Regions from separate parts of the Homo sapiens genome. Here regions 2 and 3 are each linked to region 1. The links come from fine-mapping of genetic effects on gene expression. A gene starts in region 1. Each other region holds a variant in brackets. All regions are shown on one strand. Distances are from middle to middle.

Region 1 (4,348 bases):
CCCTACAAGGAAAGTAACTTTGAAATGATCAATTTGCAGGGCCGGGTGCGGTGGCTCATGGCTGTAATCACAGCACTTTGGGAGGCCCAGGCGGGAAAATCACTTGAGATCAGGAGTTCAAGACTAGTCTGGCCAACATGGCAAAACCCTGTCTCTACTAGAAATACAAAAATTAGCCGGGCATGGTGGTGCACGCCTGTGATCCAGGTACTAGGGAGGCTGACACACAAGAATCACTTTAACTCAGGAGATGGAAGTTGAGATCGCACCAGGACACTCCAGCCTGGACGACAGAGTAAGACTGTCTCAAAAAAAAAAAGAAAAAAAAAAGGACGATCAATTTGCTTTTTGTTCAAATCTCTTTCTGCATTCTTTAGCCCCTTTTCTGCCTATGAAGCTAACCTTGTCTGCTCAGCTCATTGGAACATTCAATCTTATAGAATGAGATGCTGCCTGATTCTAGAATTGTAAACAAAAGCCAATTAGATCTTTAAGCTAAATCTTAATTTTGTAATTTTGTCTTTAGACAGTCTCTTTTTTGTGGTCCTGCAGTTGTGGCAGTTATGTAGTTATCTGCATGCATCAGAATATTACAATATTTTCATCCTCATCTTTAATTTCTACTTTTCATATTTTTAAAATGTAGACATTCAAGTTTATTTATTTATTTATTAAAACCATTTTGTAGGCCGGGCACGGTGGCTCACGCCTGTAATCCCAGCACTTTGGGAGGCCCAGGCAGGCGGATCACGAGGCCAGGAGATCGAGACCATCCTGGCTAACACGGTGAAACCCCGTCTCTACTAAAAATACAAAAAATTAGCCGGGCGTGGTAGCGGGCGCCTGTAGTCCCAGCTACTTGGGAGGCTGAGGCAGGAGAATGGCGTGAACCCGGGAGGCGGAGCTTGCAGTGAGCCGAGATGGCGCCACCGCACTCCAGCCTGGGCAACAGAGCGAGACTCCGTCTCAAAAAAAAAAAAACAAAACCATTTTGTAGAGACAAGGTCTCCACTGTGTTGCCCAGGTGGGTCTTGAACTCCTTGCCTCAAGTAATCCTCCCATCTTGGCCTCCCAAAGCAGTGGGATTACAGGGGCATGCCACCCCACCCTCTCCAAGACATTGAATTTTATTTATTTTTTTTTTTGAGACGGAGTTTCGCTCTCGTTGCCCAGGCTGGAGTGCAATGGCACGATCTTGGCTCACCACAACCTCCACCTTCTGGGTTCAAGCGATTCTCCTGCCTTAGTCTCCCGGGTAGCTGCGATTACAGGCTGCACCACCACACCCAGCTAATTTTGTATTTTTAGTAGAGACAGGGTTTCTCTGTTGGTAAGGCTGGTCTCGAACTCCCGACCTCAGGTGATCCTCCTGCCTCGGCCTACCAAAGTGCTGGGATTACAGGCGTGAGCCACTGAGCCCAGACGAATTTTTTTTTTTAAAAGGCAAGGTCTAGCTCTGTTGCCCAGGCTGGACTGCAGTGGCAAGAACATGGCCAACTGCAGCCTTGACCTCTCAGGCTCAAGCAATTCTCCCACCTCAGCCCCCCAACTACCTGGGCCTACAGACATGTGCCACCATGCCTCGCTAATTAAAAAAAAATTTTTTTTGTAGAGACAGTGTCTCCCTATGTTGCCCAGGCTGGTCTCAAACTCCTGGCCTCAAGTGATCCGTCTCAGCCTCCCAAAGTGCTGGGACTACAGGCGTAAGCCACCGCTCCCGGCCAACATTTAAATTTTTGAATATTTTTTCTGTTCCCTTAGGGTTTACCAAGCACATTTATCGACAAGCCTCCTCAGGAAATTGCCCAAAATAGCCACATGTGGCAAGCCTCATTGACAGGCCAAAAGCCTCAGTCAACATGGCCGCGACCGGCTTCCATTGCCCTTCACTGCCCGCAGTAAGGATGGCTCCGGTGACTTCCTTCGAACCTCACATTTCCCATAAAAAAGATGGCGCCATTGCTTCCGCGTTCCGGTTGCGGATGGTGAGTGTGTCGGGGGGCTTGGCGGCTTTTCTCCTCAGTTTTCTGGAGTGCTTTGGAGGAGAGGTAAGCGCGGGATGGGATGGGGGGGGGTTGGAGTGGTGGGGGCGGGGGTCACAGCAATGCATCTGATCGTTCTCTCTCAATTAGGAAGTTATGGAGGCTTTCCTAGGCATGTCAGGATTTCCTGCTAGCTCCCCGCCCCTTCCGCCCCAACACACGGTGTCTGCAGCCTGTGCTTTGGGGAATTTTGGGAATTTGTGGATAGTGAGTATGGATAAGCTTCGGTTTTGTTGTTTTTTTTTAAATTTTTTCAGTGACCTGCCACTTCAGGAGGTTCTGCTAAAAAACCAACAAACAAAAAAACAGCTTTCTTGGGAAATTTCTATTCACCTACTAAGTAAAATTTGCCCATTTAAAGCGTAAAAAAAAATCAAGCCTAGCATAGTGGCATTCGCCTGTAGTTCCAGCTGCTCAGGAGACTGAGGTGGGAGAATCGCTTGTGCCCCGGAGTTCCAGGCTGCAGTGAGCCCAGATCGCGCCACTGCACTCCAGCCTGGAAGACAGAGCAAGACAACGTACCCAAAAATAAATAATAAAGGGTAACATTAAGGGTTTTTTTGTTGTTGTTGACAGAATTGTGCATCTATTACTGTGATCTCATTTTAGAATACTTTCATCACTCCAAAGAAAAATCCTGCCTCCAGTAGCAGTCATTCTACATTCACCACGTCCACTCCGCCTCAAGTCCTAGACAATTGCTAGTATACTTTCTGTCTGTATAGCCTTGCCAATTCGCACGTTTGATATAAATGAAATCATACAGTGCAGCTGGCTTCTTTCATTAAGTATAATGTCAATGTTTTTGTGACTAGCTTCTTTCATGACTTTTGTTCTTTTTTTAAACGGAGTCTCATGACTCTCACTCTGTAGCCCAGGCTGGAGTATAGTGGCACGATCTTGGCTCACTGCAACCTCTGCTGCCCAGGTTCAAGCTAGTCTCCTGCCTGAGCCTCCCGAGTAGCTGGGACTACAGGCGCCTGCCACCACGTTCGACTAATTTTTGTATTTTTAGTAGAGACGAGGTTTCACCATCTTGGCCAGGCTGGTCTTGAACTCCTCAGCTCTTGATCAACCTGCCTCAGCCTCTCAAAGTGCTGAGATTACAGGTGTGAGCCACCACGCCCGGCTATCTTCTTATACTATGTATAATATTTTCAAAGCTTGTCTTTGTATCATGTGTCAGACTGTTAGCAAATAAATAAAACTCTGTAAACTATTTTAAAGCGGTTTATTCTGAGCCAGTATGATTGACCATCGCCCAGAGAGAAAACACAAACCCAAAAAGTCTTTAGTAAGTGATCCCGAGGCAGTTGGGTTATAGTTTGTTTTTTTTACATTTTAGGGAGACAGGAGTTAACAGGCAAAGACATAAATCAATACATGGAAGGTATACATTGGTTAGACCCAAAAAGGTGGATATGTCCAAGGGTGGTCTTAGAAGTCTTAGGTGGATTTTAGGGATTCTTTAGCTGACAGTTGCTTGAGAGAGTTAAGCTTTGTCTAAAGACTTGAAGTCAGTAGAAAAGAATGCTTGAACTAAGATAAGGGAGTTGTGTGGTTCAAGGTCCTTGTTACGTAGATGAAGTGTGAGTAGCAGCCTCAGAGAATAGATGGGCTAGGTGCCATGACTAGAGATGGGCTGGGCTCCATGGCTCACACCTGTAATCTCAACGCTTTGTGAGGCCGTGGCAGGCAGATCACTTGAGGTCAGGAGTTCAAGACCAGCCTGGCCAACATGATGAAACACCATCTCTACGAAAAATAAAAAAATTAGCCAGGCACGGTGGCGTGCGCCTGTAATCCCAGCTACTTGGAAGGCTGAGACACAAGAATTGCTTGAACCCAGGAGACAAAGGTTGCAGTGAGCTGAGATCGCACTACTGCACTCTAGCCTGGATGACAGAGTGAGACTCCATCTCAAAAAAAAAAAAAACAAAAAAGAGAGAATAGATGGTAAATGTCTCTTTTTGGAAATTTAGGTGTCAGAATTAATCTTTCCTGGATCTGGGAAAGGCCTAGAAAAGGAAATCCTGGCTGCATTAATGGAGATTCTCTACAGATGCAAATTTCTGTTACAAAAGACAGCTTTGTAGCTTTGTAGGGCCATTTTAAAATATGTCAAAGAAATATATTTTGGGGTTTTTTTTTTTTTTTTTTGAGGCAGAGTCTTTGTTCTGTCACCCAAACTGGAGTGCAGTAGTGCGATCTCGGCTCACTGCAACCTCTGCTTCCCAGGTTCAAGCAGTTCTCCGTCTCAGCTTCTGGAGCAGCTGGGATTACAGGTGTGCACCACCACACCTGAC
Region 2 (4,000 bases), 32 kb after region 1:
GCTTGACTGTAAGAGTTCAGTCATATCATCTGTTATCAAATTCTTCAGTCAAAATCCAGACACAGAGTTGGCAAGGGGTTGGGGTTCACAGTGGAGGCGTGGCGTAGTCTTCTGGTGGCACAGCACAGCCCAGCAACAGGCACGCTGGAGAGAATACCCAGAAATCCAGGCAGGTGGCAGGCAGTGTGCAGGTGCCTTCTCAGTGAGTAGCAAGGTCCCAGCTTCCAGGTTGGAGTCAGTGTCACAGTTCTAACCCCTGGAAGAGTAGTAGGCCAAGGAAGGGTGACCTTAGATTTAGGATATAGCAAGGACCGCTGCAAAACCCAGTTACAAGAACATGGGCCCAGGCTTAGGCTTAACTTGTGTAAAGGATTCCCCATTTCACCTTGCAGCTGCCCCTGACCATGGGCCTATCCCTGCCCTGCTTTTCCCAGCCAGGCTTTTTGAAGGGGCTGCCTGCCTTCCTCCTCACTTCTTCATCTCAGGATTGCTCCTCATTCCCAGGCACATGGCCTCTACCTCCATTCCCCTCTGGACTAAGCCTGCCCTTACTCAGATGCCAATGATCTTCCCTAGGAGCCAAACTGGATGGACGCTTCTCTGTCCTTTTGCTATGTGCCCAACTGCCGCATCACTGTTCATACTCTGGAGGAGCAAATTAGTAGCAAGGACATGAGACTTAAGAGCACTTTCCAGAAAACTACTGGGCTGATAAGAATCTGAGAGTGTTAGAAAAACCTCAAAAGCCTTAGTCATTCCAGTATGAGTATGTAAAGATGGGTAAAACTAGGCTATATATGTCTAATAAAGACACAGTCCATCTGGCCTGAAGTTCCCACCCAGCCACTCCTCATGAAATGATGGTAAAATAAACAACTTTTCACTTAAAGCAGGTGCAGGATTATAAAATCCTCCCCTCAGCCCTTCCTAGTGAGATATGGCAGAAGACCTGCTACTGCCAAACAGGGCTTCCTGAGAGCGAGTGCAGAGGCTCATGCCTATAATCCCAGCACTTTGGGAGGTCAAGGTGGGAGGATTGCTTGAGCCCAGGAGTTCGAGGCTACAGTGAGCTATGATTGTACCACTGCACTCTAGCCTGCGGGACAGAGTGAGACCCTCTTTCTAAAGAAAGAAAAATATAGAGTGTTCCTGGAACACCTTTTCCATAACATTCTTCTGTTTAGGTCCCTTTGAGATGTCATATTACACTACTTTTGTCTTTAGACTGAGTCTCGCTCTGTTGTCCAGGCTGGAGTGCAATGGTGCAATCTCGGCTCCCTGCAACCTCCGCCTCCTGGGTTCAAGCGATTCTCCTGCCTCAGCCTCCTGAGTAGCTGGGATTACAGGCACCCACCACCCTGCCCAGCTATTTTTTTGTATTTTTAGTAGAGACAGGGTTTCACCATGTTGGCCAGGCTGGTCTTGAACTCCTGACCTCAAGTCATCCGTCCACCTTGGCCTCCCGAAGTGTTCGGATTACAGGTGTGAGCTACCACACCCGGCCAATCTTACACTACTTCTTTCCTTCCAGCTCCAATCAAAAAGCTCCTCTGCCTTGTTTTCGGGACTCTGTGTAATCTGCTGCCTGGAATATTTGTTCAAAATATTTAATAACCAATACAGCAGTATTGCAATATTTCAACAACCGGCACGACTGTACAGGTGCACACGAGCTGAATAGAGGCCCCTGCTGCTGTCCAACTGCACATTAACACAGGCCTGCCAGTCCTGTCGGGCTTGCTTTTAGGCTGAGCCAACTGTTAATGTCTTAGCTGCATTGTTCCCCTCTCTGGAATGTGCCCCCTCCTCCCTGGTCAACTCCAGTCCACTCCAGAGATGGCTGAATTGAATCCATTAATTAGTCCCAGGTACAGACTTGCTGCTGGACTTGAACACCCTGTCTGTTAGATACTTGTTTTCTTTCTCGTTTGCTGCTTGGCTCAAGGGAAGCACAGAGTATACAGAATGGAAGAGCGGAGTTAAGAAACAGATGATCTTGGTTAAACCTCTCAAAAGCAAGATCACAAAGGTCACCCGAAGGCCCAGTCCCACATGTACTGCT[A/G]GAGCTTGATAAACTCTGGGTAGCTCATGTGGCGTATCTCACCTGCACCCTCTGGAACCTTTGTCCTGGAGAGCATCCAAGGTACTTTCTAATATAGGACAAGGAGTTTTCTCTGAAGTCGTTGTTAGACATTAACAATACAGATGTAGGAAATATCAGCCCTTTCCTCAAACTTGAACTTCTGCCTAAGAGCAGTGTCGGGGAAATTGGTTGCATGTAGACAGCAAATTGAATGTTAAACACAATAAGTCTTTGATGATTAAAGGCCATAGCTGGCAGGCAGTTATAAGTTTAAAGTAAATAGTGATTTAATGCACCTTTAGTCTTATTCTGGGAATCTGTCAACATCCCACTCTTCAAAGCCCATTTTGTAACTTGTGTATTTAGGCATTTCATCCAAGGAATTTAGTATTTAAGAGTAAAAAAAAGTTTGTTGTCTTCCTCTCTATAATTCATATTTCTTTGGAATTCTATAAAATTTTATTTCCAAAAGGAATGAATTATAAGCTCTTAGATAAAAAAACTCAAAATAAAATTTATATACTAGTTGTCAAATTCTTGATGTGTTGTTGTAGTTTTAAAATAGGAGTCAGGGTATATTTTAGATATATACATAAAATGCTAAAGACATTTTATAGTTGCATTAAGTGATATCCAACCTAGTGGCTAATACCCAGTCACTAGACCAAACCTGAGATACAGAGAGTATGGAGAGGAAAGGAAAGAAGGGAACAATGGTTATTGAACCAATTCTCTGAGAAATAACTGAGGACACAATTGGGTACATTTTATCAGATACCAAGTAGATGGGCTTTATTTGGAAGGTTTGGGTATTCTGTGTGGCAGTGCTTCTCTGCTTTTGTTGCCTCTTCCTAGATTTGGGGTTTTTGTTGTTGTTGTTGTTTTGAGACAGAGTCTCACTCCATCACCCAGGCTGGAGTGCAGTGGCAAGGTCTCGGCTCACTGCGACCTCCGCCTCCCAGTTTCAAGGATTCTCCTGCCTCAGCCTCCCGAGTAGCTGGCACTACAGGAGCCCGCCACCACACCCGGCTAATTTTTGTATTTTTAGTAGAGACAAGGTTTCACCATGTTGGCCAGGCTGGTCTCAAACCCCTGACCTCAGTTGATCCACCTACCTTGGCCTCCCAAAGTGCTGGGATTATAGGCGAGAGCCACCATGCCCAGCCTCCTAGATTGAGTTATGCAGATTCAGCTATCTAGACTGGATTTTCAGCTCCAGAATCGGATTTTGAGCTCTTTGCATGCTGCTGTTAGAAGGCAGCAGTGAATTTTAATTGTATGGCCTGAGGCGTGAAGGATAAACCATAAGTGTATATGACTGAGGCTCACAGAGTTAGAGAAGGTTACAGTCTCCGAGCTGGTGGTTCCTCACAGCTCTTTAGGAACTACAAGTTTGAGATTGAGTGGGGTCATGAGCTTGTGGGGCCCTGGATGCTCTACCTTATGCATCCAGGCAGGCATTCATCCAAAGAAAGGGTGCCAGAACCAGGAGGAGTTCGAAAACCACTAAGCGGCCGGGTGCGGTGGCTCACGCCTGTAATCCCAGCACTTTGGGAGGCCGAGGCTGGTGGATCACTTGAAGCCAGGAGTTTGAGACCAGCCTGGTCAACATGGCAAAACGCCGTCTCTACTAAAAATACAAAAATTAGCCAGGTTGGTGGTGTGAGCCTGTAATTCCAGCTACTCAGGAGGCTGAGGCAGGAGAATTGCTTGAACCCGGGAGGCGGAGGTTGCAGTGAGCCGAGATGGCGCCACGGGCACTCCAGCCTGGGCGACAAAGTGAGACTGTCTTAAAAAAAAAAAAAAGAAAAAAGAAAACCACAGAGCCCAGCTAATCCTCTCATTTTCCACATGGGGAAGTTGAATCCCAGGATAATGAAGAAAATCACCCAAGGCCATGTAGTAACCTGGCAACTC
Region 3 (4,000 bases), 23 kb after region 1:
CTGTTCATATCTTCCACGCACAAATGTAAGGCCTTTTTCATCTTAACTAAGCACTTATGTACTGTGGCCATAACTCCATAACTTTTTTTTTTTTTTGAGACAGAGTCTTGCTCTGTAGCCCAGGCTGGAGTGCAGTGGTGCAATCTCGGCTCACTACAACCTCCGTGTGGCTATAACTTTTGCAGTTTGAGGTGTGTCAGCAAGACTAACATGAATTTCTTTTTCCTTCTTCACAATTTCACGGATAGAAGATTCATTGTTACAGTAGATCTTAGTAGCCTAGGCATATGATTTTTTTCTTTGCTTATTGAGTTGAGAACTTTTACCTTTTTTTTTTTTTTTTTTTTTTTTTTTTGAGATGGAGGTTTGCTCTTGTTGCCCAGGCTGGAGTGCAATAGCACGGTCTCCGCTCACTGCAACCTCCGCTTCGCAAGTTCAAGGGATTCTCTTGCCTCTGACTCCCAAGTAGCTGGGATTACAGGCACCCACCACCAAGCCTGGCTAAATTTTTGTATTTGTAGTAGAGACAGGGTTTCACCATGTTGGCCAGGCTGGTCTTGAACTCCTGACCTCAGGTGATCCACCCACCTCAGCCTCCCAAAGTGCTGGGATTACAGGTATGAGCCAGTGTGCCTGGCCAACTTTTACCTTTTTGCCTAAAGAAAGTATTTTGTGGCCTATCTTTGGCATATCTGACTTGCTGGCATCACTACTCTTGTGTTTTGGGGCCATTAATAAGTAAAATAAGGGTTACTTGAACACAAGCACTGTGATACCACAACAGTCCATCTGGTAACTGAAAAGGCTACTGAATGACTAAGGGGCAGGTAGCATGTACAGTTCAGATACGCTGGACAGGGGTAATTAATGTCCCAGGTGGGATGGAGTGGGACAGCATGAGATTTCATTACAATACTCAGAATGGTGCACAATTTGAAATTTATGAATTGTTTATTTCTGGAGTTTTCCATGTAATATTTTTGAACCACAGTTGGGTGAGATCAACTGAAACTGCAGAGAGCAAAATCGCACATAAGGGGGGACTACTGTAAATCATTCTGATTTCACTGTTGTTTGACCTTTAAAATTTTTTGGGTGGGTATGGTGGCTCACACCTATAATCCCATCACTTTGGGAGGCTGAGGTGGGAGGATTGCTTGAGCCCAGGAGTTCAAGACCAGCCTGGGCAACTTAGTGAGACCTGATCTCTACAAAAATAAAAATAAAAATAAAAAACAAATAAAATTCTTCAAGCTCTGTCTCCAATGAAGGATCCTGCTATGTGGTGCCTTTTGTACTGAATTGTTTTCTTTTTTCCATGGCAGGACTATGGCAGCCAGGGACGCCACTTCAGGCAGCCTGTCAGAGGAGAGCAGTGCTTTGGACCTGCCATCAGCGTGTGACATAAGAGATTACGTCCTGCAGGGACCCAGCCAAGAAGCCAACAGCGAGGCTTTCAGTTCTTTGGAATTCCATTCTTTTCCTTATTCTTCTGATGTGGATCCAGGTAATAAGCAGAGTTTAAAACAAACTAACTTAAAAACAACTAGCAGCAATACGGGTGTGTGA[T/C]AGTTTGTTTCTCTCTCTTCCAATAGCAGATCTCTGAGAATGCTTCATTGTCTTAGGCAGAAAAACATCTTACCTAAGCAAAGCTTTCAGGAGGAACTTCAAAGGACAGCTTACCTGGCACAGCAATGACAAGGAGCTGTTTCCTGGATGTCTTTTTGTTATTGTTGCTGTTAATCTCAGGTCTCTTTCTAATCTCCCTCAAAATGAATTCAGAAGCAGGGGAATATTTGGTTCAACAAAGAGAGAGTGGAATTTTTTTTTGTTTTGTTCTTTTAAAACTTCAGAAAATAGCAATGTGGGCCTGTTATGTGTGATGAGTAATAAAAATAGAGACTTTAGCATTCCTTGTATGAAGTATGCTGTGGATTTAAGTAACAACCTTTCTACAAGGTTTCCTGACTAGATTGCCGAAACATCTATTATTTAAACTAATGATAATTCCCTGATGTAGGTAGTGGCCGTCTTTAGTGGTAAAGCCCTCTCTTTCATATTAATTACCTGATCTGAGTCTGGAGGCCCGCAGACCTGGATTTATTTATTTATTCATTTATTTCTTGTTAGTTTTGGTTAATCCCCTGGGTTTATCACACAGACCTGGATTTAAAGTTCAGCTCTGCCACTTGCTGGCTATGTGACTTGGGGCGTGTTCCTTAACCCCTCTGAGCTCCAGAGTCGTCTACAAAATGGTGATCAGAATGCTTGCTCCACCCAGTCAGGTTTAGCTTAAGGTAAACCTGTAAGATACTTAGCATGGTTTTTCTGCCATCGATGGGTGCTCAGTCAATGTTGTTGTCGTTAATATTAAGAAATCCAAATGGCCGGGTGTGGTAGCTCACACCTGTAATCCTAACACTTTGGGAGGCCGAGGCGGGTGGATCACCTAAGGTCAGGAGTTCAAGACCAGCCTGGCCAACATGGTGAAACCCTGTCTCTACTAAAAATACAAAAATTAGCCAGGTGTGGTGGCGGGCGCCTGTAATACCAGCTACTCGGGAGGCTGAAGCAGGAGAATCGCTTGAACCCGGAAGGTGGAGGTTGCAGTGAGCTGAGATCGTGCCACTTCACTCCAGTCTGAGCGAAAGAGCAAAACTCTGTCTCAAAACAAAAAACAAAAAACAAACAACAACAAAAAACAAATCCAAATATATATTTTTAGAAAGAACTCATTGTGGGTACTAAGCAAATGTAGGCTTTAATGATGATGAATTCAGTGATGACTACAGGTAGGATGTGTAACTGTCATTGCCTTCAAGAATTCTATGGAGAAATATGTTTGGGATTCTCTGCTGATTTTCAGGACACAGAGTAATCAGGATCAGTAAGTCTCCTGTTTAATTTAGTACCTGACTGTGTTAGTTCATTCTCACACTGCTATAAAGAGATACCTGAGACTGGGTAATTTATAGAGAAAAGAGGTTTAATTGGCTCACAGTTCTGCAGGCTGTACGGGAAGCATAGAAGCACCTGCTAGGCATCAATCAGGGCGGAAGGCAAAGGGGAAGCTGGCACTTCACATGGCTGAAGCAGGAGGAAGAAAGAGAGGGGGAAGGTGCTACACACTTTTAAACAACCAGATCTCATGGGAACTCAGCACCAAGGGGATGGTGCTGTAAACCAATTAGGAGGAACTGCCCCATGAACCAATCACCTCCCACCAGGCCCCACTTCCAACACTGGGGATGACAATTCCACATGACATTTCGGCAGGGACACAAATCCAAACCATATCACTGACCAAGAATTAGATAATTCTTTATCCTTTTCCTTTCTAGACTTAACATCTTAGTTCCTTTAACCTTCCCTTTTTTCCCTGCCATCCTGCTGCCTCTACATGACTTTCCATCCCTAAAACTGATTTTGTTCATCATCCCTGGGTAGCAACAGCATTTCTTAGAATGAGTGAATGGAGGCAGTTGAACAGAACTTTGTTTGTGTATGTATTTATTTATTTAGAGACAGGGTTTTGCTCTGTGCCTAGGCTGGAATACTGTGGTGCCATCATAGCTCACTGCAGCCTTGAACTCCTGAGCTGAAGCTATCCTCCTGCCTCAGCCTCCCAAGTAGCTGGGATTACAGGCTCACATCACCATACATGGCTTTTTTTTTTTTAATTTTTTTGTAGAGACAGGGTCTTGCTGTGTTGCCCAGGCAAGTCTCGAACTCTTGGCCTCAAGTGATCCTCCCACCATGGCCTCCCAAAGTGCTGGGATAATGGGAGTGAGCAACCATATCCAGTTTGAACAGAACTTTAGAAGTATTAGCATGTTGAAATACTTCAAGGCAATGGCTCTATTCCCTTAGGGAATTCAGTGTGGACTCAGTTTTTACTTTTTATTGCCTGTTAGTTGACTAATCTGTAGAAAAGCAACTGTTATTAATTGGAATTGGTTGACAGCTCTAAAAATAAGGAGCATGTTGAAATATTTATGTA

Evidence for each region.
Region 2: its variant is fine-mapped to the expression of SHLD1 in whole blood (INTERVAL, PIP 0.97).
Region 3: its variant is fine-mapped to the expression of SHLD1 in whole blood (TOPMed, PIP above 0.99).

Annotation. Positions count from the first base shown.
Region 1 is chr20:5,748,432-5,752,779 of GRCh38, forward strand. It overlaps SHLD1 (shieldin complex subunit 1), which reads left to right and starts at 1,970. Exons shown (of 3, transcript NM_152504.4): 1 at 1,970-2,048. RefSeq lists an enhancer at 1,796-1,845.
Region 2 is chr20:5,780,275-5,784,274 of GRCh38, forward strand. The region is part of intron 2 of SHLD1 (shieldin complex subunit 1); the gene reads left to right. Among named protein-coding and RNA genes, the nearest start is that of SHLD1, 32 kb to the left of the region's middle. The variant A/G (reference allele first, on the strand shown) is at 2,063.
Region 3 is chr20:5,771,537-5,775,536 of GRCh38, forward strand. SHLD1 (shieldin complex subunit 1) reads left to right here. Exons shown (of 3, transcript NM_152504.4): 2 at 1,326-1,507. The coding sequence starts at 1,330. Among named protein-coding and RNA genes, the nearest start is that of SHLD1, 23 kb to the left of the region's middle. The variant T/C (reference allele first, on the strand shown) is at 1,570.